2 separate regions of the Homo sapiens genome follow, and region 1 is linked to region 2. Evidence: fine-mapped expression QTL. A gene starts in region 2. The other region holds a variant in brackets. All regions are shown on one strand. Distances are from middle to middle. Region 1 has its middle 52 kb from the start of TIPARP. Region 2 holds the start of TIPARP (TCDD inducible poly(ADP-ribose) polymerase).

Region 1 (2,909 bases), 52 kb after region 2:
CAAGGGCACTCGCCCTATCGTCACTTATGTAACACTGGGCAGCTGCCTCTGTTTAAGGTATGCCTGAGTACATGCCCGACATTTCTGACAAGCCTCACAAATATCTTGTACGGGCAGATACAGACCCCAACACTTATTGACATGTTGCATCAGTTTACCCCCCACACGTCCCAGTTTCCAGTGTAGCCACAAAGCCACATCTTGTGGAGGTGCTGAATCTAACCATCAGACCTTGGCCAAGGCATCTGCTTCATCCTTGCCAGGGGTGGCCAAAGGCATATGGCCTGACACGTGATAAATAATTACCTCTTTCTGATGATCCATTTCCCAGAGGTCTTGCCACGTGGCTTGGCCCCAAATGGGTGAGTGGCCAACTAGCCACTTCTGTATTTGCCAGGTAGTTACCACAAGGTTAAGCCTCGAGAGACCACCCAGCTATTGGTACAGATTACCATAGGTGTCACCTCCTTTGTGATCACCATCCATGCTGCTCTAAGTTCAGCCCATTGGCTATTTTGTTCACACCCGGTTTCAACCATATGGTGTCAGTACAAGGTTGGACTGCAACGGCAGTCCAGGCTGCAGTAGCACCTCAGTTAGACCCATCTGTTTACCATGCCCCATCAGGAATTGAGGGATGCCCTTCCTTAAATGGTGAAGGCTCAGGGTCTAGGGCTGCCTCAGGCCCCATGGCCTTATCTTGCATTAGGACTACAGGTCCCAAGACCTCTTGCAACTCTGCTGCTAAGGGGTTTGTACTCAGTGTACCCTGCTGCTCCACGTAGGCACCCCACTTTGCCAAAGTGGATGTCTGCACCGTCCCAGTCTGGGGGGTCGTTACCCATGAATGCACCCATCTCACTATTGGGTAAGTTATCCACACGACGACTGCAGCCCATCCTGTCACACTCTCACAGCTTGAAGGGCAGCATATATAGCTGCTAGCGTTTCTCTATCAGGGAATACTGGAGCTCATCTCCCTTCCATAGTTGGGACCAAAAGCCTACTGGCACTTGCAAGCACTCTATGCACTGCCACAGGCCCCCCAGCCGAAACCATCTGTGGTCACATGCACATCCAGCTCAAATGGGTGCCCCAAGTCAACTACCCATAGGGCTTGTGCCTGCTGAATAGCCAGCTTGGCTGCCAGGAAGGCGGTCTCAGCCGCATCATCCCAATCCCAGGGAGCTCCCTTCTTTGTTAACCAATGCAACAATTTTATCATTTGAGCTAAAAAGGACACAAATGCCCGCTGATATCCCAGGAGCCCCACAAAAATCTGCAGCTTCTTCACTGTGGTGGGCCAGGGATATGCCTGAATCTTATCAATCATAGCCTCTGGGATGGCCTTTGTCTTACCTGACCAGATAACTCCCAAGAATTTGGCAGCTAATCCAGGCCCTTGGACCTTGGATTCATTGATGGCCCAACCGTATGCTGCTACATGTTGCTGCAAGAGGGGTGCCACCACTTCTAAATCTGCAAGAGAATCAGAGGTTAACATGATATCATCAATATAATGGAATAGGTGGACCCCTTCTGGACATTGCCAGGCAGCTAAATCTGTTGCAACTAGACCA[G/T]GACATATGGTGGGGCTATGCACATAGCCCTGCAGCAACACTGTGAAAGTCCATTGTTGCCTATCCCACATGAAGGCAAACTGTTCCTGGGTCTCTGGAGCAATGTCAATGGAGAAAAATGCATTGGCCAAGTCCACTTCATAGTGATACTGTCCCAGTTCTGTCATCAAACAGTCCATCAAATCCATGATTGACAGTACAGCTGCATGCAAAGGGGGTGTTACTTTATTCAGTTCCCAATAGTCCACCATCATCCAACAAGTTCCATTAGGCTTTCTAACTGGCCACACTGGAGAATTGTAGGGGCTGTGGGTGCCACACACTATCTGCACCTCCTCCAGGTTTTTAATTGTCTCAGTTATCTCTGTATGCCCACCTGGCAAACAGTATTGATGGGTGGAAGTAACCTGTCAGGGTTGTGGCAGGACCTGAGGCTGGTGACATGTATGTCCACGCAGCATCGGCTTCACCACACACACTCAGAGTCTGAATTCCCTGGGTGTGGTTTGTAATGCCAGGCCATGTAAAATGTCCATCCCCAGAATGTATTCTGGTATGGGAGAGAAATACACAGAATATAAATGGGGAGCCAAACAGCAGATGCCAAGGTGCAGAGATACAGGTTTCACTTCCACTGACCAGCCTCCATATCCATCAATGTAAGCAGGTTAGCCCTGAAATTTATTTGGGTTCCCATAAGCAAGGACACAATCTGTGCCAGTATCCACCAGCACCAGCACCCATTGTACACTAGTGGAAGACCAGTGGATCACTAATTCCACACGTGGTCGCTGGTTGTCTGGTGTCCCCCCAAGATGGGCACCTCAGCCAGTTTCCTAATCAAACAGAAAAGGCTCTACATTTCCACCTGGCTGCAGCAAGTAGTCTTTGAGCTGAAGTGCCCGGGTGGGACTGGGTCACGCAGCAATGTCCTTCTCCCCGTTGGGCATTTTCTGGAATTGCTGCTCCAGAGACAATTATCTCCACAAAGTTAAGAGTACTTCATTGGGCTGCTTATTGATTTTCTCTCGGTCAACCCCGGTCAAAATCAAATCTATCCACATCCGTGAGCATGTTACTTGTTGGGGCCCTCTTTTCTCCCATGGGGGGGCCCCTGTGGGCAGAGCATCTTCCCCTTCTTTATGGCATAGACCCCTCAGTCCTGCTGACAGCCTTCTGCTTCCCCAAGAGCTGTCACAGCAATGGTCACTTCATGTATGTGGTGCCCTATGTACAGGGTGAGGACAGCAGCTAGGGAGGCAGAGGCACTCCGGAGCACAGAACCCAACACAAGATCCCTCATGTGGGAGGTGAAACGTTCATCATCTG
Region 2 (2,909 bases):
CGATTTTATTTATATGTGTGTCTGCGCGTACACACGCAAGCGCGCGCGCGCAACTTTTCCTATTATTGCCCTTTCATCAAACTCGGAAACAAAACTGGGAGGAAGAAGCAGAGAACTGGAGAAGTGGCTGGAGGGGGAAAGCCACTAGAACCTAGCTCCTCAATTAGTTTTCATAACAGAAAAATAAAGATGAGAAGAACACATCCTCCGGTCTCCAGCGGCAGGCGACACACCGCGACACCCCTCACCTCGTGACGCTGGGGTTCTGCGGCACTCCCGGCCAAAAGCACTTTCCGAAAAAACTGCCGCTCCAAAGCCTGCCCGCCCGCCGCCGCGCGACACCCCGGCGCCGAGCCCGGGTCCGAGTGACGCCTCCTGTTGGCCGCGGCGGTTTGCTCAGCTCCTGGTCCCGGGCCGCGCCAACTCCGCGCAGTGCAGCTGAGGCGCCGCCCGGCTCTGCAATTCCGGGTGTTCCCGGGCGTCCCCGCCCCCGCCTTCCCCTCAGCAGGCGCCTGGGCGCCCCCCAACTCCTGTCCAGCCTCCTTCGGACCAACGACCCGCCCCGGCCTCCCTGCATCCCAGAGACTACTCGCGGCGCCTTCTCTCTCTAATTCTTCTTTACCCCCTCAGCTCACCTCCCGAGGAGCGTCCAACGGGTCTTGGGGGCTCGCAGAACTGAGCCGCGAAGCGCGGGGGAAAGGCGGCGAGCGCTTCCCGCGGCGGCGGGGAGGAAGACGAAGACTTGTGCGCTCTCAAAGTTAATGTGAAAACATCTTCCAAACTTCTGGGCTGCAGCCCGAAACGCGGGGTAGCCGGAAGGCTCCCGTAGCTGCCGTGCCCTCCCCCCCGGGGTCTGGGAAGGGCTCCTAGGCGCCTCAGAGCACCCGGGGTCGGCCCGCGGGGGAGGCCGCATAGACGCGCCCCCACCCTGACGAACGGGGAAGGGGCAGGCGCCTGCGACCCCAACTAAATCCTTCGGCGCCTCGGTCTGATGTATACACCTGCCACAGGCTCTAAGTGCCTAAGAAGTGTAAACCAATTCCATCTTCATGCTGACGGGACCCGAGTGAATTCGGTACAAAGGGCAGTCTCAAAATCAATCACCCCGATCCGCGAGAGCCCCGCACACTGCCGGCGCGGGGCCGGGGCCGGGGCCGGAGCCGCGAGGCCGGCGCTCGCACTCCCCGCTAGGGTTCTTCAGCCCCTCAGTGCCCTCCCGGAGCCCTTTACCTGAACGGGAGCCTGAGAGAACGGACGACAGGAGCCGAGTGGAAAGCAGTGCCCGCGCCGGAGATCAGCGCCGAGGGCGGGAGCCGACGTCTAGGGACCACAGAGCCGCGACGCGGCGAGCCGCGCACGGGCCATTCCGCCGCCGCGAACGCAGAAAGCCTCGACCGCGCTCCGAGTCCAGCCAGCTCGCCTGTCACCTCGATCTCTGCTTTAAGTGGCTTCCGGTCGCCTCCTCCCGACGGCCCGTCGCGGAGGCGGAGCCTGGGCGGCCGGAGTTCGGTGGGGTGGGGTGAGGAGGCCGGGCGCTCAGTGGGTGTCGGGAAGAAGACCCGCCCCCTGCGCGCGCGTGCGCGTTCGTTCGAGGGGAGGCGCGCGAGTTCTGTGCGGTGGACTTATGCTCCCGCGAGGGGGCGTGTCCTTTCTCGCGTCCGCAGTGTCCCTGAGGGTCCGCGTCTACACGCGGCTGTGAGGAAGGAAGGCGCGTGCCGCGTGGGACGGGCTCCACCTGCCTGCGGACAGATGGAGGGTCACTTTGTTCCGAGAAGACCCAGACACCCGAGGGAGGATGTGAAACGGAACGACCCGTTTCGGTGCGGTTGGCTTTGTTTATTTGCCTACTCCCCAGACGCCTCCAGCCTCTGATTCCGGCACACCCTGTGAGGAAGCAAACGGCTGCCTCCCCCACTGCCACCAGACGAGGTCGCCTGCCCCGAGCCGGACAGGCTGGACAGGCTGCGCACCTGCGGCGGCCGACTATTTCGTGGGCCTTGTACGCCACCTTGCAGAAGGGAAGCTGTGAGGTTTTGGCGATAGAAGCGCATTTACTTGTGTTTTAAAGCCCACAAACGCCGTAGTGACTAACTTATTCATTCAGCAAATGTCTGTCAGAGCGTCTATTACGTACCAGGCATGTAGCCTGAACTTCACGCCTGTCCTCATGGAGCTTGCAGAGCACCTCTGAAATACACACCACATACGGAATGGCCATATTTTCTGGGTTGTAAAATACTTTGAATTGTAACTCCATATATTGAATAGATTTTCAGTAGTGAGGGAAGAAACAATACATTTAGTTCATATAATCCATATGTACGAAAAAGAAGTGCTGGTAATTCCAGACATGGAAGTCAGTAAAACTAGGAGCTAAGAGGTAATAATCATAGACATTATGATTCTAAGCCTTTGTTAAACGGTTCTAAACCAGACTGGGTAAGCGCACCAGCAATGAATAGATTAAGGGTGTTATCTCCTTAGCAGCTTATTTCAAATTGCATCAAGGCAGGGCCATTAAACTAAGGTGAGAATGATATGGGCGGAATTCAGAGGACAATAGGTAAAAGATGAAAATCTTTACATTTAAAATCTTATTGAGACAAGATCTTGGTCAGTGTCTACTCATACATAGAATTGCCTAGAAGCTAATATTTGAGTTTACCATATTACTGTTGGCTTTCTATTTTTCTCATTTGTTCTGTTTCTTTTCTGTCCTTTTGTGCCTTCTTGTAGATTATTAATTCCACTCCCTTGTAACAATTAGGTTGTTATACATTCTTTATGCTTTTAGTAGTATTTCAGTTATTTATTGCTGTGTTCAAACCACCCCCAAAATATAATGACTTAAAACAATGGCTCTTTTATTTACTCATGATTCTGAATTCTCTGGCACAGGAATTCAGTCA

What was found. PIP is the estimated chance that this variant, and not a neighbour inherited with it, causes the effect.
Region 1: its variant is fine-mapped to the expression of TIPARP in whole blood (INTERVAL, PIP above 0.99).

What each region holds. Positions count from the first base shown.
Region 1 is chr3:156,621,195-156,624,103 of GRCh38, reverse strand. No RefSeq gene overlaps it. Among named protein-coding and RNA genes, the nearest start is that of TIPARP, 52 kb to the left of the region's middle. The variant G/T (reference allele first, on the strand shown) is at 1,581.
Region 2 is chr3:156,673,118-156,676,026 of GRCh38, reverse strand. TIPARP (TCDD inducible poly(ADP-ribose) polymerase) reads right to left here and starts at 1,437. Exons shown (of 6, transcript NM_015508.5): 1 at 1,231-1,437. TIPARP-AS1 (TIPARP antisense RNA 1) reads left to right here and starts at 314. Exons shown (of 1, transcript NR_027954.1): 1 at 314-2,856. RefSeq lists silencers at 352-711, 1,082-1,151, 1,182-1,231 and an enhancer at 1,642-1,941.